Regions from separate parts of the Homo sapiens genome. Here all the other regions are reported to be linked to region 3. Evidence: microRNA targets listed by miRTarBase, many of them from high-throughput screens and not tested one by one. Region 3 holds a microRNA gene; each other region holds the end of a gene's coding sequence.
The links. Region 3 holds the annotated microRNA hsa-miR-1909-3p (CGCAGGGGCCGGGUGCUCACCG, at 3,749-3,770, shown strand). A microRNA usually pairs through its seed, bases 2 to 8, with sites in the 3' UTR of a target mRNA and lowers its output. Matches are read on the target gene's strand: a 7mer-m8 pairs with bases 2 to 8, a 7mer-A1 pairs with bases 2 to 7 and ends in A, and an 8mer does both.

Region 1: miRTarBase lists QSOX2 as a target of hsa-miR-1909-3p. Seed matches in the 3' UTR shown: 7mer-m8 at 1,677-1,683 and 7mer-A1 at 2,782-2,788.
Region 2: miRTarBase lists SIRPG as a target of hsa-miR-1909-3p. Seed matches in the 3' UTR shown: 7mer-m8 at 3,808-3,814.
Region 4: the mRNA of TMEM109 is a reported target of hsa-miR-1909-3p. Seed matches in the 3' UTR shown: 7mer-m8 at 1,642-1,648 and 7mer-m8 at 1,734-1,740.
Region 5: the mRNA of MAPKAPK2 is a reported target of hsa-miR-1909-3p. The part of its 3' UTR that is shown has no 7-base or 8-base seed match.

What each region holds. Positions count from the first base shown.
Region 1 is chr9:136,204,159-136,209,930 of GRCh38, reverse strand. It overlaps QSOX2 (quiescin sulfhydryl oxidase 2), which reads left to right. Exons shown (of 12, transcript NM_181701.4): 12 at 656-3,598. The coding sequence ends at 1,203. It overlaps LHX3 (LIM homeobox 3), which reads left to right and starts at 4,803. Exons shown (of 6, transcript NM_178138.6): 1 at 4,803-4,997. The coding sequence starts at 4,919. RefSeq lists enhancers at 395-944, 945-1,496.
Region 2 is chr20:1,625,810-1,631,581 of GRCh38, forward strand. It overlaps SIRPG (signal regulatory protein gamma), which reads right to left. Exons shown (of 6, transcript NM_018556.4): 5 at 4,413-4,497; 6 at 3,343-3,827. The coding sequence ends at 4,415. Among named protein-coding and RNA genes, the nearest start is that of SIRPG-AS1, 4.8 kb to the right of the region's middle.
Region 3 is chr19:1,814,167-1,819,938 of GRCh38, reverse strand. MIR1909 (microRNA 1909) reads left to right here and starts at 3,701; the gene lies at 3,701-3,780. It overlaps REXO1 (RNA exonuclease 1 homolog), which reads left to right. Exons shown (of 16, transcript NM_020695.4): 7 at 1-5; 8 at 808-921; 9 at 1,096-1,233; 10 at 1,344-1,457; 11 at 2,159-2,232; 12 at 2,610-2,720; 13 at 3,126-3,241; 14 at 3,370-3,508; 15 at 3,594-3,714; 16 at 3,785-4,691. The coding sequence ends at 3,873.
Region 4 is chr11:60,920,601-60,926,372 of GRCh38, forward strand. It overlaps TMEM109 (transmembrane protein 109), which reads left to right. Exons shown (of 4, transcript NM_024092.3): 3 at 286-388; 4 at 1,174-2,843. The coding sequence ends at 1,565. TMEM132A (transmembrane protein 132A) reads left to right here and starts at 3,860. Exons shown (of 11, transcript NM_178031.3): 1 at 3,860-4,133. The coding sequence starts at 4,034. LOC124902676 (a long non-coding RNA gene) reads right to left here and starts at 4,797. Exons shown (of 2, transcript XR_007062688.1): 1 at 4,619-4,797. RefSeq lists silencers at 3,756-4,115, 4,176-4,395, 4,436-4,505.
Region 5 is chr1:206,732,251-206,737,948 of GRCh38, reverse strand. It overlaps MAPKAPK2 (MAPK activated protein kinase 2), which reads right to left. Exons shown (of 10, transcript NM_032960.4): 10 at 3,668-5,374. The coding sequence ends at 5,231. Among named protein-coding and RNA genes, the nearest start is that of IL19, 36 kb to the left of the region's middle. RefSeq lists enhancers at 133-182, 3,133-3,322.

The sequences.
Region 1 (5,772 bases), not on the chromosome of region 3:
CGTGCGCCGCAGCTTCTGCATGACGGATGCCTGTTGGGCCTGGAAGTGAGCACATGTCACTTCAGAAACGAGTTTTGGAGATCTTGAAGGGATTTGTAGTCCGGAAAGGGCCAGTGTACCTGAAGTGCAGTGGAAATTCATTGCTGCCCCTCTGCCCTTTCCTGAAGGTGCACCTAAGGCCCACTGTCCATAGCACCCAGGTGGCCGGGGCTCTGTAGGTAGTGGGCCTCAGGTGCACCCTCAGGAAAGGGCAGAGGGGCAGCAGTGGGGGGAGGGGCACACAGGCAGCACTGTGCGGAGAAAGGCCTCCAGGTGAGAGCTGCATGCTCCGTTTTGGAAGTGGAGTGCTGGGTGGTTTGGGACAGGTGTGGTCTGGGAAGTGGCGGAGGCCGAGCGTGTAGCGTCTCCTCACTTGCAGGCTATGGGAACCGGCAGAGGGGAACACGTGCGCAGGGGCCTGCAGAAGCAGGATGTTATCTGGGCCGAACTGCAAGGGACGGGTGGTGGGAAGGGCAGGGAGGGAGGCCTGGCAGGACCCTGGGCCAGGGCAGTGGAGGCCCGTGGTGGGTGGGAGTGGGAGTCCGGTTGCCGCACGCTGCACGTGGCTGCACAAAGCCTCCTTCCCTCTGGCTCTCCCGCTTCCTTTTCTTCCTAGGCCATCTGAGTGAGGATCCCCGGTTTCCAAAGCTTCAGTGGCCCACTCCGGACCTCTGCCCAGCCTGCCATGAGGAAATTAAGGGCCTGGCCAGCTGGGATGAAGGCCACGTGCTCACATTCTTGAAGCAGCACTATGGCCGCGACAACCTCTTAGACACGTATTCCGCAGACCAGGGGGATTCCAGTGAAGGAGGAACCCTGGCCAGGGGTGAGGAAGAGGAGAAAAGACTCACTCCCCCAGAGGTGTCCCATGGAGACCGAGACACCCAGAGCGTCCGTCCACCTGGTGCACTGGGCCCCAGGCCTGCCCTTCCAGAGAGCTTGCATCACAGCTTGGACGGGAAACTCCAGAGTCTGGATGGGCCCGGGGCCCACAAGGAGGTGGGCGGGGCCGCACCCTTCCTCGGGGTTGACTTCTCCAGCCTGGACATGAGTCTCTGTGTCGTGCTGTACGTGGCTTCATCCCTGTTCCTCATGGTGATGTACTTCTTCTTCCGGGTGAGGTCCAGGCGGTGGAAGGTCAAGCACCACCACCCGGCCGTGTGAGTGCCCGGGTGCTGCCAGCCACGGCGGAAGCTCCCTTGGAGGCAGCCCTGCCCCGTGCCACCTGCAGCTTTAATATTTATGATCAGGGATTTTATAAACATGCGGGCCTGGTTTCACATCGGATGGCACCTTTTGGCTTCAAAGTCCTGGTTTTACAAACGCTCTTCTAACAAGGGAAGAACACGGGGTAATTTTGTGGGGATATTTGCATTCCTGGCGTACTCAAGTCTGTTCATGCTCCTTTTGCAGGTCTTACAGCAAAAAGACTTCTGTATTTTTACTCTTCTAGATGTGAAAAGAGGGTGCAGAGTCCAGGCCAGATAGTCTTCCCCACACACTTTCATCTCGTTTCCTCCACTCCGCCCCATCCTGCAGGGCCTTGTTTTTGTATTTGGAGAACCTCGCCCATCCCCCCCGCGGCTCCTGGCTCCCCCCCACTCCCCTCGCTCCCCCTCCCCCCGCTCCCCCCACGCCCCCTGCTCCAGGCTGCCAAGTGTTTTCCTTTAGCCGGGCGGGGACAGACAGAGCCGGAAGCGCAGTCGGCCTCTGCAGCCCCTCCAAGCAAGTGCTCCAGGGACTATCCTGTGTTTGTAGCTGCTTCCCTAGGGCAGGTTCCTGAGGGCTCTCCTTGTTCCTCCGGGTGTTCGACACCAGACGTGGGGATTTCAACAGGGGAGGAGCCAAGGAATTCTGTGGCTGTGCTGCGTTTCAGAAAATAACCCCCAGAGGCCTTGGGCTGTGGACCTGGGGGTTGGAAGGATGGGGGCTCATTTAACCCTCAGAGGCAGCGCCTTTGTCTGTCTATCTGGTGACAAGAGAGAGACAAGTAAATGGGGGCCGTTGGGACGGCGGGTGCCTGGAGGGCAGCTCTGGGCTCAGCGGGCAGTGCTTAGAGCACAGGCCCCTCTGTTGGGGGATGGGGAGGAGAGCAGTCTGCCCTTGGGAGCGTAGGCCCCAGGGAGACTTCTAAAGCCCCCCCTGTCGTCTGCTCTTCACCCAGCACCACAGAGGCACCTGCTGCACACACAAGCATCTCACTCGGCCCACGGAGGGGGCCAGGCTTCCTTTGCCTGAAGCTGTTTTGGGAAGGGTCTCCACACAGGCACTGATCTCCCAAGCTTTTGTCATGATGTCTTTTACCATTTGATAATTTTAAACATTGTTTTTAAACCCAAAACATTTAGTGGTCCGTTGCCTCTGAAGATGTAAACAAACAAATACACTATTTCTGGGAACATTTATATTGAGATTCTTTGTGGCTATTGGTGTGTCTCACAGGCAAAATTTGATTTGGCTAAAATAGGCTCAGATGTATTTGTGTGCCCGTGTGTGTGTGTGTGTGTGTGTGTGTGTGTGTGTGTGTATGAGAGAGAGAGAGACTTTGACGGTTGTAGATATTTTTTCCGCTTTGCCTACTTTATGTTGTATAATCATGTGTTTACTAACAAGTTGATGACATGGATGTATTCATAAGACCATGTAATATTGATGTGATTGTTGTCGCTTGAGAAAAAAAGGCAACAGCTGATTCTTTCAACAACTGTCACAGAATGGCTGGGCTGAGAACGCTGCCCAGGGCCCTGCAGCTGGCGGGAGAGGTGTCTGGTGGGAGCGGTGTCTGGTGCGTCAGCCTGCTGCTTCGTGTCTCACTCGAGAGTTGCTTCTGGTTTCACACTTTTTAACCCCTCTGTGCTTTAGCAGCCGTGACCTTGCCTTCATTGCTTCATCCAGTGCAGGCCTGGGTTATTGAAGACACCAAAGTGTTTCTCTTCCAGTTTGAAAACCAGGCAGGTTTACACGTGGGTTTCAGTGTATTTGCCTTTGAACCCTTCAAACTAAACTTTAGCCTTTTGGCTGGTGTTGAATGTCTTTAGCTGGGGTGACCTGGAGTGACCTGGGACGGTGTTGTGGTTTACCGTCTCCAGCTTCAGCCTTTCCAGAAACCCTTGTGGAGGGCAGTGTTGGCTGCAGGTTTCATCATATTGCAGTTTGAGGTCACCACTATTTGGGGAACAAGCTTGCGTCCTGCTGAGGGGCAGGATTTTCAGCAGAGCGTCGGTGGGGCTGGGCCGTCGTGGAGGTGGCCCCAGGAGTCATATGGCCATACTCAGACACACCTTGTGTGGCCTGCTCAGAGCTGGATGCCACCTTTAGGCAATGTTTAGAGTCTATTTTCTAAAGTTTTAAGTATTTTAAGAGGTATTGAGACTAATGAATATAATAGTTCAGTAATTTAAATGCTTATTTATTTTCAGTGGAAGGATTTTTATTAAAAAGAAGCTAATTGACATGGAAATGTCAGTGAAATTTCTTACCTGCAAGGAAAGTGAACATTTTGTATTTAAGTAAACTATAATGTGCACATTTTAATAAAGAAATCTGACATTTGAAAAAATGGTGATTCTTTTGAAATGTGAACCAGCTCTACCAGTGGGAGTTGTGGTAGAGGCGGTGGGTGCAGAATGGACCCCTCTTTTGTTCACGTACTGGACATCTGAAATCCTAGAGTTTCTCCTATCGAATCATTGGCTTTTGGGACACAGCCCAAGGGTCGGATGGAAAGTAGAAGATGGAAAGCAGTGATAGATCATCTCCCTGGAGCTGATCTGGACGAGACTCACAGGACAAGACCCTTGATTTTACACAGGTTAAAGGGCAGCTGAGATGCATGTCAGCTACACACTTCAAAGAGCACGCGCGGCAGCCCAGCCTGAGGGCACCTCAGAGGACCCCCAGCTTGCTTGAGTGGCCATCCCTCTGCTTCCTGGGTGTGAGTGTCCTGCTAAGGCTGTTTGTGGTGTTCTGTGGGGTGCCCTTGACCCCGTGTTGTCTTCTGCCCCTCCCCTACTTTTGCTGTGCCAGTGGGGGCAGGGCAGTGGTCAACAGTCTTGCCTGTGGCTGTGGAGGAAGCCGGTTGGCACCTCCCTGGCCAGGCTGTGCAGAGGCTGGCAGTAACTCAGTCACTCGTCAGGCACCGAGCAGACACCAGCCTGGGTGTGTACTGGGCGATTCCTTCAGGCCCTGCCTATGCCCAAGGTCTTGAGTCCTCAGCAGTGCTTTTGTTACAGGGGACTGCAGGTGCCTCTCCTCCTGGCAGCCCGGAGGGGTGCGGGCTGAGCTCCTCCCAGAAGTTGGGGGTTGAGTTCAAGGAGGTTAAGAGTGGAAAGTTCCCTGACCAGCAAAACACCTGCAGGAGAGTGCCCCAGTGAGCCCTGGGCTGGAGTTGATCACGCATGGGGCTGCCCCGGGGCACGGCCTGGGCACTGCCTTCCAGAGGCTGCACGCCAGAAGGGTAGGGTCAGTGTCCTCCTGCCCTGCGGCTGGACGACCCGCTTGCTGCGAAACTCGGCGAATCCCAGCGCCTCAGCAGGGCCTGGAGCTTAGGGAGGAGCGGGCACGGCCACCCTGGGTCTCAGAGGGGTGAGGGCGGGGGCTGCCTTGAGTGCGGCCCAACCCAGCCAGGGAGGGAGGCGCGCCCGACACGGGGCAGAGGCGGGGGTGGGGACCGGGGCGACGAGAGGGGCCCCGGGAGGTGGGCGGGCGCGCGGGCGGGGCGGGCAGCGGGCGCCTCCTTCAGCACCGCGGACAGCGCCAGGCCCAGTGGCTCCCGGGCTCCCTGCCCCGCACGACGCGGCGGGACTTGGGAGCCCCGAACCCTCCAGGGGACGCTGACCTAGGAGGAGCGCGTCTCGCGCCACTCGGCCTGGTGGCCGCGATGCTGCTGGAAACGGGGCTCGAGCGCGACCGAGCGAGGCCCGGGGCCGCCGCCGTCTGCACCTTGGGCGGGACTCGGGGTAAGCCCCAGCAGGACACTGAGGACAGAAACGGCAAGGGCGGCAGAGGCGCGAGGAAGGGGGTGCGTGCAGGGCCAGCGGCCAGGCAAAGAAAGTCCCGCCGCTCTGCAGGCGGGACACAGAGATGGAAACTGCAGAGAGTGAGTTTCCAGATCCCAGGGTGGCGGGGAGGGCCTGACGCTGGCCTGCAAGAGTGCGGGACAGCGGTTGGAGTGGAGGCCCCTAGAAAAAAAGGGGGCATCGCAGGCACAGCTGGGGGGCGATGGGGCCGACCAAGGGGTGCTAGGTTCCCCCGGTGACCAGTGCCCGTCAGCTCTTGCACACAGCCCGGCCCAGGTCTCTGGACCCCACAGCAGGGGACCCAAGCCTGTGTCTCCCGCCTGAACCACCCTCCCCAAGGGCCATTCCATCACCACGGACGCTGGGAAATAATGGAGGCATTGTTGGAGGGCTGGCCAGATGCCAGCAGGGTGGGCCGCCTCCTTAACCTGCCGCCGCCCCTTCCCCAGTCCTGCCACACACGACCCCTGATCGCTTCGGCAGCAGCTGACACTCAGCCACCTGCACCCAGCACAGCCCGCACACACTCGGCTTTGCACCCGCGTGTCCTTGCCCTGGCCCTTCTTGGGTAACAAGTGCTGTGCAAAGTGAAGGGGCAGAAAGCTGGCTGCATGGGCCACTGCTCAAAACGGACACATCGGACCTGCTGGGAGCTAGGAGGGAGGGACTGTGGTTTCTTGTGCCCATCCTTCTGGGCCTGGGCCCTTAAAGCTCA
Region 2 (5,772 bases), not on the chromosome of region 3:
AGTGAGGAGTCAGTGGATGTTTGAGGAGAGCAAAGATTAAGTTTGTGGGCTTAGGAATCAGAACTTCTAGATTTGAATTTAGTTCTATCAGTTCTAGCTGTGTGACCCAGGGGAGTCTGTTTAACATCTCTGTTTCTTGAGTTCTCTCAAATATAAAATGGAAGTAATCGTATCAACTTCAGAGGTTTGTTATGGTCATAAAATGGATTAATATATGTAAATTCCTTAATAATTGCTGATTGTGCTCCAAAAGTTAGATGTTATTGTTATTAGGTGGTGTTTTGGCAATAGTAATACCTTTAAAAAACAGACTCTCTGTCCTCGAGGATTTACGATGCAGTGCGACAACCCTGGCCAATGGCTGGGGGATGTGCAGATACCACCACATGATGAGTGTGGGTCACGTGTCTAGCCCTATAATCACGAAGTCATTACTAGCACCTGGGTCATGGTACAAGCATGACCTCGGGAAATCACTGTGACTAAAGAAAGGCAAATCCCGGTAAGAGTCTGCACAGATGCTCACGGAAAGTGTACTCCAAATCTTGTCTCCTGCTGGGATGGGAGAGAAGAAAATGTTCCCAAATGGAAATCCATAGATACGGGTGAGATGGGCTGAGAGGGTGAGGAGACTTACATATAAATACACCTGTGTAGAACAGGCTGCTCTCACCTGTGAGTCCCAATAGCATAAAGAGGCAAGGGTTGTCCAGGTGGGCTGGAAGACAGGTATGGTCATTGCCTGCTCTGTTGAAAGTTTATCACGGAGAGACCCCAGCCTCTGAGCTCTGCAGGGAAGGAGAAGCCCCACCTGCCATGATATCTGAGGAGGGAATTTGCTGTGGAAGGAAAAGGCCACGAGACTGGCATGGTCTCATAGTAAAAGAGGAAGCAGGCAGAGTTGCCACCCCTGGGAAGTTGCTGATATCCACCTTGGGGTTCCCACGCCTGGGAGCCTTGGACAGTAGTGGAGACAGTTTGACTGCTCTGGGCCTGCTCTCTGTCCCAGGGGCACTCACTTCATGCCAGGGTTCCCTTGGCCCTTCCTCAGTTGACAGCCCTGATCCACAGGGCCCTGTAGCTAAGGACTGAGTTTGGATTTTCAGAGACTGTAATTCTGGGTGTGGAAAGTTTGAGGTCTTGTTACTGTAGCAGCCTTTAAGGATGGAACCAAAACTCCTGGATGTCCCCTGCAAAAAGTCCCTAGGGCCAACATCAAGTAACAAGCTGAGCAAATAAGAAATGGCAACTCTTCTCAGGTCTGTCAGAGAAATGAGGTCACAGAGCAGACCATTGTCTCCAAAACTGGAAGTTAGACAAAATGATATAGAGAATTACAACTTCCTGAAGCCAAAACCTCCATGGGAACCAGTGCCAGGGTAGGAAAACCTGCACTGTAATTGAAGAATTGCTAGAGGCTTGGTGTGGGCCAGTCTGAGGAACAGATTCCAGCAGGACCCAATCGCAGGGAACTCCAACACTGTTGTGAGATTTACCTCCAGGAGCTTGATTAGGTGCTCAGAGTGAATATGAGAGAAACATTCACTTGTGCTTCCTGGGGGGTGTGGAGGGGAAAGCGAATCATTCTGAACTACACCAGAGCATTCTTTCTTCTTACCAAGCCCAGCTCTCAGGAGAAACTATTTTACCAGTGCCTAATCTGCTGGGCTTTGATCAGAGCCTAACCTACCTGGGGAAGGCAAGCACCCAACTCCAGCCCCCTCTGGCCATCCTGTCCCACCATAGGGGAAAAAACTGAGAGGCACTTGTGAAGTCCACAGGCCAGGGGCACAGGCTCACATAAGACTGCAACCTCATGTAACTGGTGATGAGCCCATGTGACATTTTTGGGAAACAAATAATTGAAAGAGAGATTGGACAACCACAGTGAAAATGCAGTGAATAAATGAGCAGTGAAAATGCTGGAGATAAAGTTCAAATTGTATGTCAGTGGAGTTATAGAAGCATGAATAGCTGGTGAGGCAACGTAGACCCTGGTAGTGTTTGAAAAACTTCAGATAGGCAGCCCGCAGGACTTAGAGAAGGTGAATTTAACAGATACGGGATGGGGTACTGACAAATAGGGCGAAGGTGTCCCTGAGGATGTGACAACAGCAAAAATCTTCACGTGAAAGGAACTTTTGCAGAGATTTCACGACACTGAAAGTGCAAATGATAAGGTGCTGGAAACAAATCCAAACTTAGAGAGGAAGGTGATAAAACACCCAGATAGAAAGGATGTTTGCTCCATATCCGAAGTGTACAAGAAGGAGGTAAGCACTCTTCCAACTACTCTTGAAACATTTTTACAAAGAAATAAAATACTGAAACACTTGATGTTTCCAATGTTTTGAATTACAGGGTACTAATAAATATTCATTTATTATTTTTTATTGCCTTCTACATTTGTAACTGACACTATGAGAGTTTCCTATATTTTGACAAAAAATTGTAAAGGTCACAATATGATCATTGTTTTTCTGATTGGATGTGGAGATTGCTTTCCTGGGTTTCCGGCTGCACAGTCATTCTTGCAATCTTGCACTGCTGTGAAAAGCGAGGGCTGCCTGTATTCGTTATAATGCTTATGGTAATAAATGCTAAATAAAAATTAATCAAGATAAGAGAAATTAGAATGCCAGGGTAGACAGGAGAATTGATATTATGTACAGGGTGGTTTGCCAAAGGTGCCTTTAATAAAGTGACATTGAGCAGAGGCTTGAAGGAGGGATGAAGGGAGCCATGCAGCTGTGTTGGGGAAGAAGCAGAGGAGTGATACAATTTGACTTTTCCAAAAATCCCTGTAGCTGAAAAATGAAAGCCAACAGAGGCTACAGAAGTGTTCCCGGAAGAGATGATGCTGGCCGGGACAGGGAGGGGTGATGGAGGTGAGAAGTGTGCAGGTTAGGGATGTAACTCAGTGCTCTCCTGCAGCAGGCTTGGACTGGCCCCTGAAAGCCAACCGTTAAGTTTCAGGAATTTTGCAATCCAGTTGTTAAACTTCTGGTAGCTTGAAACTGGCCATGTTGGGGGTGATTATACCACAGAAATTGTCAAGTACAACAAATCAGCTTTTTTTTTCCTTTAAGAGAGTCCATTTTTAAACACTTACCATCTCACGAGTGGACATAAGTATTTTGAAGGCAGAATTGAATATGGGGTGTAAAGAGACATCAGGGAGGATTCGGGAGTCAAGGAGGCTTTTGGACTGCGGCAGCATTTCCGCCATGAGCAGCAGGGCGGGGAAGCCTGCAGGATGCTAGAACTAGTGTTCCCATCACAGAGAGAGCAGGGAGAGCTTCTTTGTTTCTGAGTGTGAGGAGTAGGACCCTTAGACAAAGAGGAAGGATAATCTTTTTATTTTCTTAAAACCACTTTGGGAGTGCATTTGTATTCAAGAGGCAATAGAGAACCTCAACAAGGCTGGGGAGTTGGGATAGGCAGGAATCTGGAAGGCAGGATAACTCTTGAGAACCTGGAGAGCGTCTGTGGTTTACGGTCAGTCTCAAGGCGATGGATGGGAGTCCTGGTGTGTTTAGATTTGGCATGTTTCTCGCCTTCTAGGGAGGTGCCGTTAAGTCAGTGCCCAGAGCCCAATCCCATGGCACCTGCTCAGGACCATGAATGAAGACCTTGCTCTGGGGCATCCAGGTCTGTGTGAAGGAGCAACAGGAGCCTGTGGGCAGGCAGATGTCTTGGGAGGGGAGATGTTTGGAGCCAAGTCTAGAGAAGCTTCTCACTGGCTCATTCTCTCAAGCTGAGCCTCTCAGGAAAGGAAGGAGGCAGCAGAGATGAGGGTCCCACGTGGCAGGGGAGGAAGGAAGGAGCTGTAGGAAAACACATCCACACTTAGTCATCTGCTCATCTTTCAAGACATGTTTCCTGAGAGTCTGTTATGTTCTCGGGGCTGGTCTCCTGGGATACCTGTCACTGGTGGACAGGCAGTCCTGATAGAACTCTGCCTGCTCAGCCATCCTGCCAAGTCCTGATGCCCTTTCCAATATTCCTTCCACTCAGACACACAGAGGGTCAGAGCACAAACAGCCTTCAGGGCTTCCCATTTGGGTTTCTCAACATTAGTTTACAATGTGGATTTCTCTGACCCCATGGAGTCCCAGCATTCAAATAATCTACAGATAGCCTGCAAGGGACCACCCACTCATCACTGCCTCCATGAAACTCCTAGGGCACTGTGGACATCTTTGAACACATTTCAAGCATCCCACATTGTACACCACCCACATAATTTCTGTGGGTTGGGAGCCTTTTAAAGGGTTCCCCAAGACTTCCGAGGGTGCGGAGGGAGCTTAACTCCACGGACCCTGGTGCTGCATGGCATGTGGGCTGGGCCTTCCTGTTGGCCTTGCCCTTCTGAGACAGCCCTTGGTCTGTCCTCCCTTCCTTGTACTTACAGTCAGGTCTTCTGCTTCCAGGGGACGTAGATGGGGCCCAGGAGGACAGCTATGAGGAGCAGCGCAGTAAGGGATGATGCCGGGCCTGGAAATCAGGGAAGACGAGGGGCTATGAGAGAGACCACTTGGGAGGCCATTGTAGGGGCCTCCACTTACCCCATCTGAGGCTGCCTGGGCCCATCTATGCCCCACCTTTGAACCTGCATCCTGCCCAGGCTATCTTCACTCCAGCACAAGGCAGAAGCCACAGAAAGAGGCTCCCCATTCTCACTCATCCTGTCCCAGGTTGCCAGCTTATTCTCCTGGAGGGAAGAGGTGGAGGGGGTGTGTACTCAGGTATTCATACATGTGGCAACGGGGTTCCTCACTTGACCCTCACAAGCCTATGGGAGCAGGGATTGTCATTCCATTCTGCTAGGGAAACTGAGGCCCATGGATTTTAGGGAGGGTCACAAGGTTACTTGCATTCAAACCTAAAGAAGCTCATCACTAGTGTTCCTTAGGTTGATCCCTGAGACCATGTCCTTTGGAACAAAACAAGTCCAAATTCCTAGGGACATTTTAATGACTATAAAAGGGTAGGCAGGTGGCTTGAGGATGGCTTCACAATGAGAGTTGCAGGTTCCCTGCTTAGCCCCAGAAGTAAGGGGAGGACTCCGTGTTCTCAGAACTTGGAGGAGCCATGGAACACTGGACATAATGAAACCTTCCGGCTAGAAAACATCCTGGTGAGTCACGGAAATGGGTCTCATGCTTGGGAGGGCCTCAGATGTCACCTAGGCCACCTCCACCCCAGTGCAGGTGTCATCTGAAATCTTTCTGTTAGTTGGGCACACTCAGTTACGGGGAAGCACATGTTTGGACGCTGCATTTTTAACATGAGCAGTTCAGGCTTTTAAAATCAACATTTTTAACGCGAGCAGTTTGGGCCATTAAAGATATTACAGTATATTTTAAATAAATAAAATGGTGCTGGTGGGTCCTTAAGGAAGAAATGGAGAACTCAGCATCTGTGGCTGCTGGGGTGTTGGAGGCCGGCAGTTCTCAGCTGGGTGGCTCTCTGGGACTTCTTCTCCCTTGAGGAAAGCTGCACTGCCCAATTCCAAGTTCACTCCTCCTTCTAGGGGACAGCCCACAAGAAAGATTGGCTGAATTGAAAATAGGAAGGCCACGCTTCTCTCCTCAATTAAAAAACACTACATGACGCTCTCAGCCCTTGGGATCCTCCGCAGGAGCAGCTGGGTCTTTGTTCTACCTGCACTGTAGCTCAGCACCTCGCTCCTCCTACAGTCCTGCCTCCCCATTTCCTGAGGCATGCTGACCCTACAGCTCTTCAGGATGCTTCCTGCATTCCTGTATC
Region 3 (5,772 bases):
CAGCAGTGAGTCCTGGCGGGTGGGCGGGGGAGGCTCAGGGTTGCTCTTGGGGTGGCAGCTGGGCTGGGACCCTCGCTGGGACCTTCACAGCCCTGAGCTCAGCCACAGTCTCAGACAAAAGGAAAGCGCGGTGCTGTGGGGGGGCTGCCTGCTGCCTGGTTCCCAGGCTTCTGTGTAGGACGGACCTGGCCCTGGTGTCCTCGCTGTCAGCCGCCTTCCTCCGCTGAGTGGGGTCTCCAAGCCGAGCCGAGGGGCCGCCTGCTAATGGAGCTGCGGCAGCTTCTTCAAAGCAGGAGGCCCAGGGCTGGGCGAGCTCCATGCATTAAGCTCTGGGGAGGAAGAAAGCGGAGACCTGGGCGTTTCATTGCAGCCTCTCCAGGCTGCATTAAGCTATCACCGGCCCCTGCCCCCGTCCCCGCCTGCATTAGCACTCGGAGGGGCCCTGGGTTGGCGTCGCAGGCTGGGTGGCCCATGAAGGCTCAAAGCCCTCGAAAGCCATTAGATCCCCCGTGCTGTTCTCCCCGCCCTTCCCCCTTCGCTTGAGGGGAGGGGACGAAGACTTTGGGTGTGGGGCCTCCGTGCAGCTCTGGGGCCTGCAGAGCTGGCGGCTGCCCTGCGTCCCTGGCTCACCGCATGTCTGCCTCTCCTGTTCGGGTCAGGCTGGAACCCGGGGTCAGTGGGGTGCTGTCCCAGAAAGGGGGAGTTGAGGCAGAGGTCTGAGGAGGGCAGGGTGGGTGGGAGAGCAGGCGGGGCAGGGGTCTGAGCCAGCTACTTCACACCCTCCTCCCCTCCCTCCCTTCCTTCCAGAAACCAGTGGCCGCAGGGTTGTGTCCCACGAGGTGGTGTTGGGGGGCAGGTTGGCCGCCAAGACCAGCTTCTCGCTCAGCCGTCCAAGCAGCCCCCGGGTGGAGGACCTGAAAGGTAAGGCCCTGCCCCTGCTCTGCCACACGGTGCTTCGTGGGCCTCTGCCGGCCCAGCCCCTGCTGTGCCACACGGTGCTTCGTGGGCCCCTGCCGGCCCAGCCGCCTTTCCCGGTGGTGTCTACCGCCCCGTGGGCCATCCCAGGCAGGGGCTGACCACTGTGCCTGTCCACAGGGGCTGCCCTGTACAGCCGCCTCAGGGAGTACCTGCTCACCCAGGACCAGCTCAAGGAGAACGGCTACCCCTTCCCGCACCCAGAGCGGCCCGGGGGCGCAATCATCTTCACAGCTGAGGAGAAGAGGCCCAAGGACTGTGAGTCGCTGGCCTGCGACGGCCTAGGTGGGCAGGTGCGGGATGTGGGCAAGGCCGGGCATGCGGGCCCCAGCGTGAGCCTCAGCTTCCACCTGGGTCCCCACCCACAGCTTCCTGCAGGACCTGCTGCCGCTGTGGCACCGAGTACCTCGTGTCCTCTTCAGGCCGCTGCATCCGGGACGAGGAGTGTTATTACCACTGGGGACGGCTGCGCCGGAACCGGGGTAAGGCCTTACCCGGGTCCTTCCCCTTCCCACCCATGGCCCCCGGAACCTGGGCCCTCCCTTGAGGCCCCCAGAACTGGGGTAAGGCTTTACCCAGGCCCTCCATCCCACTCAGGGTCCCTGGGCTGCACCGTCTTTGGCAGAGCCGGGGCTAGCCCTTGGCCTCATTTTCTCTCCACCTGTTCTTTATGCAAAAGTAAGACAAGAGCTTTCCCATGACAAGGTTCAAATGCCACCACCTGAAAGGCCCTGTGTCCCTGCCTTCCTGTGCCCTTGGTCCATGGAAATGTGGAGGTTGCTGGCCCCAGGAGCGGAGGGGCTTGTCCCACCCTTGGCCTGGTGGTTCTATTCAATCCCCCAGGCAACCACGCAGCCACGCTCAGGGCACATGGCCAGCCTTGCACAGCCCTGTGGCGGCCCCTAAAGCCATCGCCTCAGGGATACCTGGAGGGTGCTGCCCGGGGCAGCGCTGCCAAGAGGCCTCTGCAGAGGGCACTGGTCTCCCTGGATCCAGGCCTGGGCGTCCTGGCTGCCACACGACTGCCGGGGCCTGGTCTGCTTCCAGCTCCACCAAGAGGCTGAGGCCTCCTGTCCTCAGTCCTCACTCCCTAGTAGGGCTCGGTAGATGCAGGTGGTCAGTGCCCCGGGGGCTGTGGAGTGGGCCTGGCCGGGCCCTGACTGTGTGTCTGTGTCCCCTGCAGTGGCCGGAGGCTGGGAGACCCAGTACATGTGCTGCTCGGCTGCCGCCGGCTCTGTCGGCTGCCAAGTCGCAAAGGTGAGCCCTGGCGTCCCAGTCCCCTCTGCCTGTTCTCAACAGACTTCTGCCTCCCCATCGTTGGTGTGGGGTCTCGGGACACAGCACAGTCCTGGGCTCAGGGTCTGGGCCCCCGGGCAGCCTTTCTTGTGTTACCCAGAGAACGTAGCACCCGTAGGCCCCAGGCCCTGTCCCTGGCCACTTCCCATCCTGGGAAGCCGTCCTCCCTGTGTCTTCTTGGCAAGCCCCCTTCCCCACCTGCTCACCAGGGTCCCAACCAGTGAATGGGCGTGATGGATGGATAGGATGGTCCCGAAGGGCTCAGAGATGTGCTGCTGCTGCCACCCCCGCCCCCACTGCACCCCGAAGCTGCCCTCACCTGCCTTCTCCACCCCCAGCAACACGTGCAGGATGGCCGGAAGGAGCGCCTTGAGGGCTTCGTGAAGACCTTTGAGAAAGAGCTCTCAGGAGACACCCACCCGGGGATCTACGCCCTGGACTGCGAGATGGTGAGGCTGTTCTCTGCCCAGCGTCGGGTTCAGGATTGGGGAGGACCTGGCCTGGTGCGGCCGCCCCATCTGGCCCCATCTGGGCCTGGCTCACCGGCCAGCGCTCAGGGTTTCTCTCGCAGCACCGGTGCCTGTGGCTCCTGCCCTGGACCAACACCCCATACTTCCCAGCAGAGCCAAGCACACCGGGCACTGGGCCCCGGCTCTGCCTCTGAATGGGAGGCAGGAGGGCTTTGCGAAAGGGGGTTACTGAGGTCACACCCCACTCGGCCTCTCCTAGAAGTCCCACAGAGTCTCTGGTCACTGCCTCTGCCTGGAGGGGCTCTGGAGACTCAAAGGGGCAGGGAAGGGGAGGGAGGGAGGCCGGTGCCTGGGACACATCTGAGGTGCATCCCTTGCCCGCAGTCCTACACCACATATGGCCTGGAGCTGACGCGCGTCACGGTGGTCGACACGGACGTGCACGTGGTTTATGACACCTTCGTGAAGCCTGACAACGAGATCGTGGACTACAACACCAGGTGTGGCCAGTGCCCTCCACGAGCTGGGAGCCCTCCCAGCCGCCTCTCCCCAGGGACCCACCCTCCCCCGCCCCACCAGCCAGTGCTTCCAGGCTGAGCCCTGGTGCCCCTCCTGCCCGTTCCCCCAGGTTTTCGGGGGTGACGGAGGCTGACCTTGCCGACACAAGTGTCACGCTGCGTGACGTCCAGGCCGTTCTGCTGAGCATGTTCAGCGCTGACACCATCCTCATCGGACACAGCCTGGAGAGCGACCTCCTGGCCCTGAAGGTGCCCTGCCGGCCCGGGTCCCGCGCGGTTCTCCAGCAGGACCTGCGCAGGCCCCACGTGCGCTGATCTCTGCCGCTGCCCACAGGTCATCCACAGCACCGTGGTGGACACGTCTGTGCTCTTCCCCCACCGCCTGGGCCTCCCCTACAAGCGGTCCCTGCGGAACCTCATGGCCGACTACCTCAGACAGATCATCCAGGACAATGGTGAGTGCCGGTGCCTGCCCTGGGGCCGTCCCTGCGCAGGGGCCGGGTGCTCACCGCATCTGCCCCGCAGTGGATGGGCACAGCTCCAGCGAGGACGCCGGCGCCTGCATGCACCTGGTGATCTGGAAGGTTCGAGAAGACGCCAAGACCAAGCGATGACGCCTGCCCGCCTCCCACCCGCCTCTCCTGCCGTCCCGCTGGTCCTTAGCCCCATGCCTCTTCCAAAACAGTGCAATAAATCTCCGGTAACCCGTCCACCTGGCCGAGGCAGCCCAGAGCAGCGGGATGAGCTGGCGGCCAGAGAACGCCCAGCCCAGCCCACCCCCGCTCACGTCCTGCCGCACCCCTCCGCCGGTCCCCACCCTCTGCCCCCCAGCCCTCTGGCGTCTCTAGAAACTGCTGCTGATGGAGACCAGGACAGAGCCCGCCCCCACCCGGCCCGCAGCCCCTCCTGCCCCTCCTGCCAGGCCCTCCCTCCCGGGTGGTGGCCGGCACCTCTGCTCCTCACGTGGGTCGCGGGGCGGGCTTGTCCCAGGTTTGTTTGAGACAGTCTTTTTTTATTTTGTATTGTTATTTTTATTATTTTTAATTTAAACCTGATGACTTGCACAGCATCTTTCCCACCGGGAAGAGCGGGCCTGCTGCCTTCCCTCCTGCGGGGTGGGGGTGGGACAGACCCCAGTGGGGGCCAGGGCCACACTCAGCGCAGTGTGGGCTGGACCCGCCTCTGTGCTCCAGGGGCTGGCCGGTCTTCGGGGGCGCCGGCTTCCACCACTCGCCGCCCCACCCCTGCACTCCGTGACCTCTGAGAACCCAGCTGGCCCCTCGTTAGCCCCAGGGTCTGCCGTCTAGAGGGAGCCCACCGGCCTCCGGACACTGTCTTCCCGCTAGAGCCCCGTCCTCCTCTGCGGGGCTCTCCGGACCCCCTTCCCCCTCACCTCCAGGCAGGGACAGAATAAATGTTTGTATGGATTTTAGATTTTGTGGTGGTCTTGGTCTTGGTGCCTGGTGAGGCCTCTGCATGTGCCCCGGGGAGGCCACTGTCCCTGCAGCCGGGACTGATTCTCTTCCCATCAACGCAGAGAAAACAGAGCAGTGAAACTTTCCCTCACAAAAGCTGGCCCAGGGCTGGCTCCCCCAGGGCTGGGCCACACCTGCTGTGGGGTCCCAGTTCCAGCCCCAGATCATGGGCCACCATCCTGCAGCTTCTAGTGCCTCTCGGACAGTGGGTGGTGTCCCCAGCCCTGTGTGGAGCTGGGCCCTGTGCACAGAGCTGGCTTCCCTCTCTGCCCTGCCCAGAGATAGGGACTGCACACAGATGGTGAGAGGGGGTTAAAGAGACTGGGAGCTGCTGTGTGTTGCCCGTCAAAGGATGGAGTGCAGACACGGAAAGCTGCTCCGGCCCTTGCCAGGAAACGCCACACATTGTGTAGTGCACGCACGTCTCGGGCAACTGTGGTTGCATCGGGACCCCATTTGGAAATGGGAGGCCCAGGGGTGTTTAGGCCCCACTTTTTATTGACCTCAAGTAGAAAAAGTGATGAGCCTTGCGGGACAGGACCCAGCAGCTGGGGGCAGGTTGCCTGGAGTGGGTTTCCTGCCACCCTGGTCTTGGGCTTCTGCTGAAGGGCAAGGCCAAGGGCACAGGTCCCGGGATGAGGACGTGGGGGCCCTCCCCAGAGGACTCCATCCCAAGGCTCCCTTCCCGGTTCTGGGCTCTGCATCTCTCCAGGGCCCTCCTGGGGGACCGTGGTTAGGCCAGGCCCTTCCACCCTCGAGGGCTGTTCTTGTGACTAGTGACTCTCCCACCTCTTCTGTAAAGGAGTTGTTTTCTTTTTCTTCTTTATTTTTGAGACACAGTCTCGCTTTGTCACCCAGTCTCAGCTGGCTGCAACCTCTGTCTGCCGAGTAGCTGGGATTATGGCTGTGCCATCACACCTGGCTAATTTCGTATTTTTAGTAGAGATGGGGTTTCACCACGTTGGCCAAGCTGGTCTCGAACTCCTGACCTCAAGTGATCCACCTGCCTCGGCCTCCCAAAGCGTTGGGATTACAGGC
Region 4 (5,772 bases), not on the chromosome of region 3:
CCAAAGTATCCCAGCAAAGCAGTTAAATTATGTCCCAGATGCCCTAGTTTCCAGTTCAGGAAGGAGAGACAGCCTGTTGGCCATCCCTGTAGACTAGAAGGTGGATGTGGAAGGGACCCCTCAGCCAGGCCCAAGGCCCCTACCCTCTGACCCAGGCCTGTCACCACTGGGTGAGAAACAGGTCTGAGACATTCCTGCAGTTCTTGCCTGGACAGTGGTGATCAGGCGTGAAGGCGAGGACCGTTGTTCATTATGAACTCATCTCGCTCCGTGCTCTTTCCACAGTCTTCGTCCCAAGTGTTGTGGGCCATCTCATCAGCCATTTCTGTGGCCTTCTTTGCTCTGTCTGGGATCGCCGCACAGCTGCTGAATGCCTTGGGACTAGCTGGTGAGTGTTCGAGTGCTGGGTAGTCAGCCAGAGCTTTGCCTGTACTTTCCTACTTGTGGGAGTTCATCTTTGTCAGGGTCTAGCCTTTTCCCCAAGCTGCTTAACCCTTCCCAGGATTCTGCAGAGACATGGCCAAAGAGCAAGCCAAGAACTACCATGGCCAGGTGTGGTGGCTCCCGCCTGTAATCCCAGCACTTTGGGAGGTCAAGGCAGGAGGGTCACTTGAGGCCAGAAGTTTGAGACCAGCCTGGGCAATATAATGAGACCTCGTCTCTATAAAAAATTAGCCAAGCATGGTGGCGTGTGTCTGTTGTCCCAGCTACTTGGGAGCTGAGGTGGGAGGATCGCTTGAGCCCAGGAGGTAGAGGTTGCAGTGAGCCGGGATCACGTCACTGCACTCCAGCCTCGGCGATGGAGCAAAACCCTGTCCCACCCAGACCCCCTAAAAAAGAACTTCCGCCACCACGTGCCAGTTGTTCACTTCCTATCAGGCATCGTGCTGAGCTGTAGTATCTCATTTAATTGCCAGCCACAGTACAGGGAGGCAGTAGAATTGTTCCCGTTTAGTAAATGAAACTGCAGCTCAACAGAAGCAAGTAATCTACTCCAGGCCTCACAGCCAGCAAGAAACAGAGCTGAGATTCCAACCCATATCACTCTGAGTCTGCGAGAACGGCTTATTCCTTTGCAATGTGCCTAGCACCTCCCACCCTTTTAGCTCTTGCCCCGCTCTCCCCTCACCACTTCTCCAGGTTGGCTGACTCTGTGACTCTCTTGGCTTCCAGGTGATTACCTCGCCCAGGGCCTGAAGCTCAGCCCTGGCCAGGTCCAGACCTTCCTGCTGTGGGGAGCAGGGGCCCTGGTCGTCTACTGGCTGCTGTCTCTGCTCCTCGGCTTGGTCTTGGCCTTGCTGGGGCGGATCCTGTGGGGCCTGAAGCTTGTCATCTTCCTGGCCGGCTTCGTGGCCCTGATGAGGTCGGTGCCTGACCCTTCCACCCGGGCCCTGCTACTCCTGGCCTTGCTGATCCTCTACGCCCTGCTGAGCCGGCTCACTGGCTCCCGAGCCTCTGGGGCCCAACTCGAGGCCAAGGTGCGAGGGCTGGAACGCCAGGTGGAGGAGCTGCGCTGGCGCCAGAGGCGAGCGGCCAAGGGGGCCCGCAGTGTGGAGGAGGAGTGAGCCGGATGCCCCACACACCGCCAGTGTCATACCAAAGAGCTGAGCTGCTTCGGGGCCATGCAGCCCTCCTGCCAGCCCCCTGCCCTTTTCTTGCCCTGTCTCTGAACCTTCAGAACATTGATCCTTGCCGCAGCCCCACTAGCCAAGAGAAACAGAGAAAGACCATTCCCCCTGCCTGTCCTTGCGGCCCTGTCTTCTGAGGTTCTCTGTCTGGGGTTGGCTCTCTTAACCCTTTCTCTGCTCCCAGCCTGCCTCACCAGGGAAGGTTGGAGGGGCCTCCCTCTGGCTTCTGCATCTGCGCCAGCAAACATCACTGCCGTTGGTCTCTCATGACTTAACTGGCTTCCCTCTGCTGCTGCCTTGGCTTCCTCCTAATGCTCGTGCTCTCCTGTCCTTCTGAAGTTGCTCCTTGGCCAAATCTCCAGCTCCCTTCTTGTTTTCCTCATCCTCCTACCCTGTACTCCCACCAAACCATGGTCCTTTAAGGCACGCTCCTGTCCTCCTCATTGCCCAGCAGTAGGGAGGGGCAGGGGTAAGGGGACCTGAGGATAAAGGGTGGGGAAACAGGGTCCCCTGAGGCCTGTGGGGGCTGCAGGGGAGGAGGATGTACCTTGTGTCTCTTTCAAGTGCCTTAATCCGAGCCAGCAGGGCCTTCTGCTTGCCTGCTGCCATACTGTATGTAGGAAAGTGTTCTGTGGCTGCTTTGTGTCAAGAAAAGAGCAGTCACTCTCAGAATCTTGATTCCCCATCAGCCAAAGCAAAAGATGGCTGCTGCTTTGTAGGCATGTGCCTGCAAGTGGGACCTTGCTGGGCATTATATGCCCTGTGGGGGTTTCAGAGACCCTGAAAGAGGAGGGAGGACCCGCCTCCTTGTCTGCACAACTGCATGCACTTCTCTCCCCATCGCTCCACAACCTGAAACCGAGAAGGAGTTGCTGACCAGTGCCCACCCCGGCAGCCCGGGAGGAACACAGGCAGCTCCTTTCCCTTCACGTGGTCTGCAGAGAGCAGGGTGAGCTGCCAGCTGCCCCTCTCCACCAGGGTACCCTGTCTTGGTGGTTAGGGGCCACTTTTCCTTTGAGGCTCTAGTGGAGGTGGATGTCCTTCTCTGCCAGGCTTGGCACATGATGTGAAGAATAAATGCCCAATTCTTACTGTTCAGGTTTGATGTGGAATCACAGCTGCAGTGATATATATTTTTTATCAGTGCTTGGTTGGTTTTAAATAAAGTGCACGCTATTTTATTATCTTGTTCTGAATAAAATGTATTTACTCCAAGTCTGGATTGCTTCCATGTCTCCTCTACTGCTAAACCCATTTCTGTAGTGCAGCTCCGCCTCCCAATTTCTCCCTGTGGGGGCAGTGTGAAGCTGGCAGAGGGGAGAGCTGAAAAGGCAGGCTGGTACCAGGTACCCTTCCCTCCAGGAGCACAAGGAATTAGGAAAGCATGCCCCCATTACAAAACGTAGGAACGACTGGCACTGCTGGAAATGCGTGTGCTTGCTGGGCAGAGGGGTCACCCCTTCCCTGCAGTGTGCTGAGGTGGGTGGGCAGCCTGGAGAAGACTTGCCTGCCCTCCCCTTCACCACCCACCTGAGGACTTTCCTGTGCCAAGGTTTCCAGTCGGCCCACAGGCTGGACCAATTTTGCGGAGGGCCTCAGACATAATTTTTTCTTTGTAAGCTGCCCAGGGCATGAGAGTGTGCAGCTGGGGCCCCTGCTCTGGGCCTCTCCCCAAACTGCCTGGTAGGCAACACTGGGTCAGGACCCTTGAGGCTGGCCTTCCCTCGGGAGTGTTGGGCAACCCTCAACCCTCCTAAGCGCTGCAGGACGCTGCCCAGGTGGAGCTGGTCAAGAGACTAGAGCTGCCTGCACCTAGAGCCCTTCCTCCACGGCGGTGGCCTAGCTCTGTCAGGGCAGGCTCAGGTGGTTGGCATCTGGCCCCGTTTGACCCCCTCCCTCCTTTCCTGTCCCTGCAGCTCCCGTCCCATGTGTCCCTGAATTCTGGTTCTGACTCAGGTGTCAGATGCCTTCACAAGTGAGCTGCTTGTGGGGGTGGGTGAGGCAGAGAAAGTGGCTTTTTCTTCCCTGATCAGAAGCTTCCGTGAGGGAGCCACACAGAACTCACCGAGTCCCTCCTGGCAGAGGCGGCCGTCCTCTGTTGCTTCCAGGGACGTGGCCCTCTTCCCGACCTCGGTCGCCTGAGCGCGCAGGGATTGGGGATCCGTAGGGCACTAGGACCCGGCGGGGCGGAGGGGGCAGCCCATGTGCTGCGATTCGCTCCCTCCCACCCCACTGCTCCCGCTCCATTGTCTGGGAATTGCAGCCGCGGGGCGGGCGGCGGCGGCGGCGGCGGCGGCCGGGACCCAGCGGGCCAGGTGGGGACGGCGCGGAGCGGGTGCGGGAGATGCCGTGCGGGACTGGGGCCACCTGAGCCGCCCGCCTCGTCCCCGCCTTCTGTGGGAAGGATGTGCGCGCGGATGGCCGGTCGCACAACAGCGGCCCCTCGGGGGCCCTACGGCCCCTGGCTCTGCCTCCTGGTGGCCCTCGCCCTGGACGTCGTGAGAGGTCAGCGGGAGGGGAGGGCCGGGGCGAGGGGCGGCCGGGCCCGGCCGAGTGGGAGCGAGTGATGCCCGGGAGCCACCAACCTTTGGGTTCTCGGACTGAACCCTGAGCGGGGTCGCCCCGCAGCGCCCTGAAGGTCGGAGAGTTCTTGCCCTCGGGAACCTGCCCCCAGCCACTCGCCCCTAAGGCTTCCTTCACCTTGCACGACCCGGCAACTCCTTCCTGACCCGGGGCAGCCCGGCGCAGGGGCTTCCCCGTCCCGCACCTTCTGCGAGGGACCCCTCAGCCCGGGCATCGAACCCGGCGGCCCCGGTCCCGGGCGCACTAGCGTCATCCCCACTCCCTCACTGTGGTCTGTAGCGCTGCACCCTCCTAGCCTCCTTCCGCCGCCACCAACCCACCCCCCTCGGGAGTGGAAAGCAGCCCCTTTGCCTGGGACCTGCAACAGACGCAAGCCCTCCCTCCCCCTTCCCCCAGGGCTCCCTGACCTTGGCGTCTCCAGGGATGGCCGCATCCTTGCCTTCCAGAACCTTTGAGAGGATTCCTGTCACTGCGGGAAAGGGCAGCAACTTCCCTGTGCTTCGGGGTGGGGGTCGGACTCCCTTGGCCTGGGCTAGCTGGGCTGTGGCTGCAAGGCAAAGGATGCCACAGAAGACAGAGGGACAGTGAAACATTCTCTGCCCTCCCCACCGAGAGAGCCGAGCGCTGGGTGATGGGAGTCCGTGGGAGTCAGGCTAAGAGCATCTTGTAATTATGGAGGCAATGGAGTAGGAGGCGAACCTGAAGCCAGTGGCTGCCCCCAGAGAGCAGTGGTCACTTGTTACGCTTGGGGCAGGGGGCAGGGAGAGCCTGTCAGTCATATGCTCCTTGGTGGGGAGGGCCAGGAAGGAGGTTGAAACCAATTCCCCCACCCCCACCCACAGTCCAGCTGTGGGGCTGAGAGGGAGCTAGCTGTGGGGTTGCTTTCAGCCACCTGCTCCCCATCCCGAGGGACGCCATGGGAGTCCTAATAGAGAGAGGAGGAAAACCTTGTCAAATCCATTATGCAGCAGCAATAATGCCTGCTCCCTCCAGACAGCACTCCACAGTTTACACAGCCCTGTCCTGTCCACAGTGCCACCTAATGCTCCTGCCCCTTTTACAAGTGAGGAAACAGGCTTCAAAATGTTAATGCCTGACCCAAGTTTCATCAATTTAAATTCAGGTCTCCAGGCTCCCAGGAAATCCTCTCTAGGGAGCGCTTCCTAGTTTGGGGGAATTCCAGGATGAGCAAGACAGGGTCCCTTGTTTATAGGAAGATTACTAATTCAGAGGAGGCACCCAGGGTTGCAAAAGACAGGAGACTGGTGGGAAGGTGAGTAACCAAGGAGGGCTTCCTTCAGAAGGAGGCAGTATTCACTCATGGCCCTGAATGAGGAGGGAGGTGCCACCGGGCAGAGCAGAGGAGAGGAGGTGCGCTCCAGGGCATGAAGCCTGCAGGGTGCACCGTGGCAGTGGAGAGTGGAGAGAGAAGTGGCAGGTGGAGACGCCGGATGGTCTAGTGGCTAATACCTGGGATCAACCCCCAGCTCCTTCACTCTCCAGCTGTGGAACCACAGGCAAATACCTTAACCTCTCGGCCTCATTTTCTACATCCACAAAA
Region 5 (5,698 bases), not on the chromosome of region 3:
CATAGATGTGAGATCTTCGTCCAGAGGACGAGGATCCAGGGTGTGGTTTATTTTGTCATTTTGGTTTTTTCACCTCACTCATGCTCATCTGAAAACCTCTGGGGCCCTAAGAGGCTGCCCTATGCCACCTGGGCTTGAATGACACATTGTTCTCAGTCTGGAACAGCCCCTAATGTGTCCAGGCCTGTGGGTACAGGGAAAGGGAAGACAAAGCCACTTGCTGCTGCACACAGGCATTTTGTATCTCCCCAACTAGGTTCTCAAGGGCAGGAACTGTGCCCTACACTTCATTTGTTTCTCCCAAAGCACAGGACATACACCAAGTGCCTGGATTATCTAGTGGTCGAGTATGCTGGGGAGCCACACTGTTCTGACTGAGTGCAGGGAGACGACAGGAAGATGAAGTGAGCAAAAGGACCCAGGGGCGGCTGGAGCCCCTAAATGTAGGCTTCCAGAGACAGAGCCCGAAAGGAGCTGCATTCTCAGGGCTGAGGATGCGGTGGCTGCCCCTCAAAGCCTCCCCTGTCCCCACTCTGCCCCACCTGGGGAGTGCCCAGAGGGTTTGTTTATATTCACCAGTAAGTGGGCCAGCCACTTTCCCCAGCCTCACCACCCTCACCCTCCTCCCTTGAATAACTGAATTTCCTTCACACCCTGAGCAGGCCCGACCTACCCGACCTACCTGCTACCCACTCTACCCACTCGTCACTCACAGCCTCCTGCATTTCCTGTCTCCAACCCAGTCAAAGGAAAACCCCAAATTTACTGTTATTGTTTACCAACCCAACTGCCTGCTCACCCCAAGGCACAGAGACCCGCCGTGAAGCTCAGGGCAGGAGCGTGGACCAGGCCTAGGCCACTGACTCGACTCCAAGCCTGGGGCTCCCTGTGCTCCCACTGCTGAGCAGCGCACTGAGGGGTGGGACCCTCCTGGTGATAAAGGCCACCTGGCAGCTGGCATTTTAGGAAGCATTTAAATCCACCATCTAGGCTGGGCACAGTGGCTCATGCCTGTAAGCCCAGCACTTTTTGGGAGGCTGAGGTGGCCGGATCACTGGAGATCAGGAGTTCGAGACCAGCCTGGCCAACATGGTAAAACCTCATCTCTTCTAAAAATACAAAAATTAGCTGGGCATGGTGGTATGTGCCTGTAATTCCAGCTACTCAGGAGGCCGAGGCAGGGGAATTCCTTGAACCTGGGAGGCGGAGGTTGCAGTGAGCCAAGATCACACAACTGCACTCCAGCATGGGTGATGGAGTAAGACTCTGTCTCAGATAAATAAATAAATCCACCATCTCACTGAATCCTTAAAACAGCCACAGGCCTAGGACTATCACCCTCATTCTATAGCAAAGAAAACTAGACCTTCCTCAGTGGAGTGGAATCCAGCCTCATATCTCCTCTCCTCCCCGCCCCCTCTGCACTCCCTTACCAAGACGATGTCCATGGGCTTTCTTAAAGAAGCTCTAAACTTGGAAACAGGAGATCCAGGTCAGAATCCCTGACTAGCTGTGTGATGCTGGGCGAGTCCCTTTACTCCTCTGAGTTGGAGTTTCTTACAGGTAAGCTGGAAACGAGACTGACTACCTCAGAGGGTTCTGATAATGAAGAGATGGAGGGGAAGAGCCCAGCATCGGTACTTGGTAGGGGCCCAGGAGTGTCTCTATGCTCCTCTTTACATCTCACACTACTTAAGGGTGTTCAAGAAGCACACCTGCTCCTGAACCCATGCAAGCCAGCATCTGCCTTTAGGGACAAAAGTTTCCATTGCCATCCCACCCAGGCATTTAGCAGAGGTGTTAAGCTCTCCCTAGAGACAGGGACTCGCAGGGCCATGCCAGCATGGAAGGTCAGGGACATGGGCATGGGGGTGAAAAGCTGTGGCAAGACCCCACTAACCATGCCAGACCCCTCCTGGCCCTTCGCCCCAGCCATTTTCCCTGAAAGCCAACCCCAGCCTGAATCCTTGCTGACCACAAAAGCATCCTCCTGAAATGGGCTGAGTCAGGGAAGGAAGCAAAACACAAGGGCCAACGTTGGGCATGAGGCCAAGAAGGCTGTGCAACGGGCCTCTGTGGCAGAATCCTGGCCCCCAGTGATGCCCATGTCTTGGTCCCCAGACTGTGGCTATGTTCCCTTACATGGCAAAGGGGACTTTGCAGATGGGATTACGGTTAAGGGCCCTGCAATGAGGAGATTATCCTGGATTATCTGAGTGGGCTCAATCTTATCACACCAGCTGGGTCAGAGAAGTGACCACAGAAGGATCAGAAAAATGCAAGGTTGCGGTTGAAGATGGAGAAAGGGGGTCATGACCCAAGGAATGCAGGAAGCCCCTAGAATTGATAAAGGCAAGGAAACACCCTCCAAAGAGGAATGCAGCCCTGCTGAGACCTGGACTCCAGCCAGCCTAGTGAGACCCTATCACACTCCTGACCTACAGAACAGGAATATCATAAATTTGTGTTGTTTTAAGCCATAAAATTAATATGGCAGAAGCTTTGTTAACAGGAAACTAATAACAGCTTCTAAAGATAGCAGAACTCTGACAACTTCCTCTCCTTCTCTCCCTGACTCCCTCCTAGCACCCCTTATTCCTCCTTCTTGGGTTATTGCTTCTAACACCTTCATAAGTGCAGACAAAATAAGTGGATTTCTCTGAAAGCAAACCCCCATGCTGGTTTGTTTTGAGCTGTGATTTTAGAGTGATGAGTAGTGTCTCAAGGCGAGAACCAACCTCAGCAACCCACTGTCATGAAGGGGAGGTCCAGGGCCTGCTGTTCCCAGGAGCTGAGGGTGGAGACATGGTCCTTCTGGCAGCAAAGGGGACAAGCAGGTCTCTCCTCCAGCGGGGAGAGGGATCTGAGTTCCAATCCCACCATGCAACTGTGGCACATCATCCCACCTTCTCAGTCACTTTCCTCACACATAAAACAGCAATCAGCAGCCGCCCTGTACTGTCTCTTGCTGGCAGCTCTGAGGGTCACATAAGAAAATGCGGGTGACACAGTGAAGGATGTGCTATTTTCCCATCTGACCCGGAGGGACTGCAATGGGGCAGGTAGCCCAGTTTCTACTTTAGGCTCTGCTGCGGGTCAAGTCATCATGTGGCCCCAGCTCTGGGCTTCAGTCTTCTCATCTGTGCACTGAGAATGGGCCACAGGAACCATGAAGTCTCTTCTAGCTCCGAGGTAGAGCCTTTGGTTTCTGCCTGACCCCTATCACCGCCTCCTGGAGAGTGCCGGTACTACACTAACCTGCTCCCCTGGTATCTTTACCAGGATTTCAACCAAATTCACCAGCACCCCCTCTTCCCTGGACCCTATACCAGCTGGCTTTCGCAGGCTAAAGGTGCCAGCACCTGGTGGTGGCTATGTAGGTCAAAGAATCATATGCCAAAAAGAGCTTGGCTCCTGATTCTGCATTTGGCAAAAGAAGATGGGCTTGAGCCCTTGCAGCCTCCCTGTCCTGCTTTAAGGATGCCCTACACACATCCTGCCCAGGTCCTCACCAATGAGGTGCTGGCTCCTGCTCGCCCAGGAGGCCCTCCGCTCCTCTCCCAGGACCCCCAACCCACACCCTCACCACCCAACAAAACCCCTCTGCACATAGAGGCGGTGGGGGGTAAGGCCTGAGCCCCAGGAAGAAAGAGAAAGAAAAACTCTCAACTATTAAATCTGTTTAGTAAAGACAATTTCGCTCATACAAAACAACAGTTTACAACAATCGAGTGCTGGACACACCATCTGAGACAAGGGAGGCGCTGCAGGCACCCAGCGCCTTCCCCCATACACAAAGACGACCCTGGGCGCCCCTCCACCACCTGCCCCTGAGGGAGAGGAAAGGTGAAGTATTCCTGCCACCTCTCCCTCCAAGGGAAGGGGGAGTGGGGGGCCATGGCACAGACAGCCTACCCCAGCTGCTCCTCATCTGTGCTGGGGGAGGCCCCTCCCCTCACCGGCCCCGAAGCTGAGTTGTTTGGGGTGATGGCAAATGGCTGATGGGCAAGGGGGCAAAGTCAGGACATCTTTGGTGCAAAGACTCCCCCTGACCCACCAGGCCACACAATGGAAATCTGAGGGAAGACTTCAAAAGTGGCCCTGCCTTTGCCCACAAGGGGTAGCTGGCTGATGCCCCAGAACCCAGGACAAACACAGGAAATGCAAAAGCTCTGCCAACAGAAGCTGCCCAGGCTCACCTACATGAGCTGGGCGGTGGCCCATGGAGAAATGGCTAAAAATTTAAGGAAAATAAACAAAAATGGGTTAATAATGGCAAGAAGGGGAAGTAGAGAGGTCATTCAGTAGATGAGTGCCTCAGAGGACCTAGGACCAGCACTAAGTGGGGGGAGGGGGGCCCTGGGGGCTGGGGGTCCAGTCTTCCTGATCGCAGTGCCAGTGCCCGGTCACTCCTCTCTGCCTCCCGGAACCCAGCTAATAGAGACAGGCCACAGAGGGCCTGTTTCAGAATCTGGGTGGGCTTCCCAGGCACTTTGGCAGGCTCAGTATGGGCAGGGCAGACCCAAGAAGGGAGAAGGTTCCTAAGCCCCAGCAGGGCCGTCTCCCTCTGCAGCCCTGCCTGCCCCTGGCCCCTCAAATGCACGATCCCAGGCACAGATCTGCGCACTCATACACACGTGTGCACACACACACACACACACACACACATACACTCACTCCTATTTGTCTGGCACACTGGAGATGTCTGAGGGCTCCGAGAGAGGAAGTGCGTGGCATCCTCCTCCAAGGTGGCCTTGAGCTCCCAGAACGCGTGAGCCAGCGGGGACAACCCCAGGCTGTTGTGGAGAAACAGGGAGGGCAGATGGGACAACACAGGGACAATCCCTATGACAGTTTCCACAAATACCCTCTAACAAACCACAAGCCTTTGCAGTATCCAGAGAGGAAGGCGTCTGGTGGAGAGGAGTGGGGCAAGGACAACAAAAGAGGTTTCGTAAAAACTCTAAGTCAAATTACTGATAAAATTGCAAAATGAGCACAGGTTCAAGAGCACCTTGCTCACTTCTCTCCACAGCCTCCCAACCTCCCAGCCTCTCCCACTCTGGGGTGGCCAGAACCAAGGCAGAATTCAGTCACTGATGCAGTTCCAGGCTCCATGCAGCTGAGGAGGAGAGGAGGCAGATGTGGACAGTTCTGTCTCTTCGTTTAAAAAATATATTCCTGTAGAGAGTTATTGCTTGTCCTCCCGTGGGCAGGAGGGCGCGGTGGCTCAGTGGGCCAGAGCCGCAGCCTCCAGGGCCCGAGCTTTCTTCCGCCTCTTCAGCAGCAGAGGGTTGGATGCATCTTCAATCTTTTTTATCTTGATCTGCTCGTAGTCAACGCGCATTGTGGCCAAGGCACTGGTCATCTCCTCCTGGGGGCACGGCAGCACCAGGAAGGGTACAGAGAGAGCCAGAAGACAGGTAGGAGAGACAGCAGAAGAGAGACGTGAGAGACAGAGACAACAAGGGCAGGGTGAGGGCGGCAGGGGTGGGAGCAGAGAGAGAAGACGGGCTGGTTAGTGGTCCACGCTGACAACGGCAGCCTCACCCCAGCGCTGGGCAGCAGAGAGCCTGGCTATGGCACTGCTGCTGTTCCCTGAGAGCCCCCCAGTGATCCCGCAGGATAGGAGGAAGAGACTTGGGCCAGGAGTCAGGAAACCTGGGTCCGGTCTGCCCCAACCAGTCACCAGCTGCGT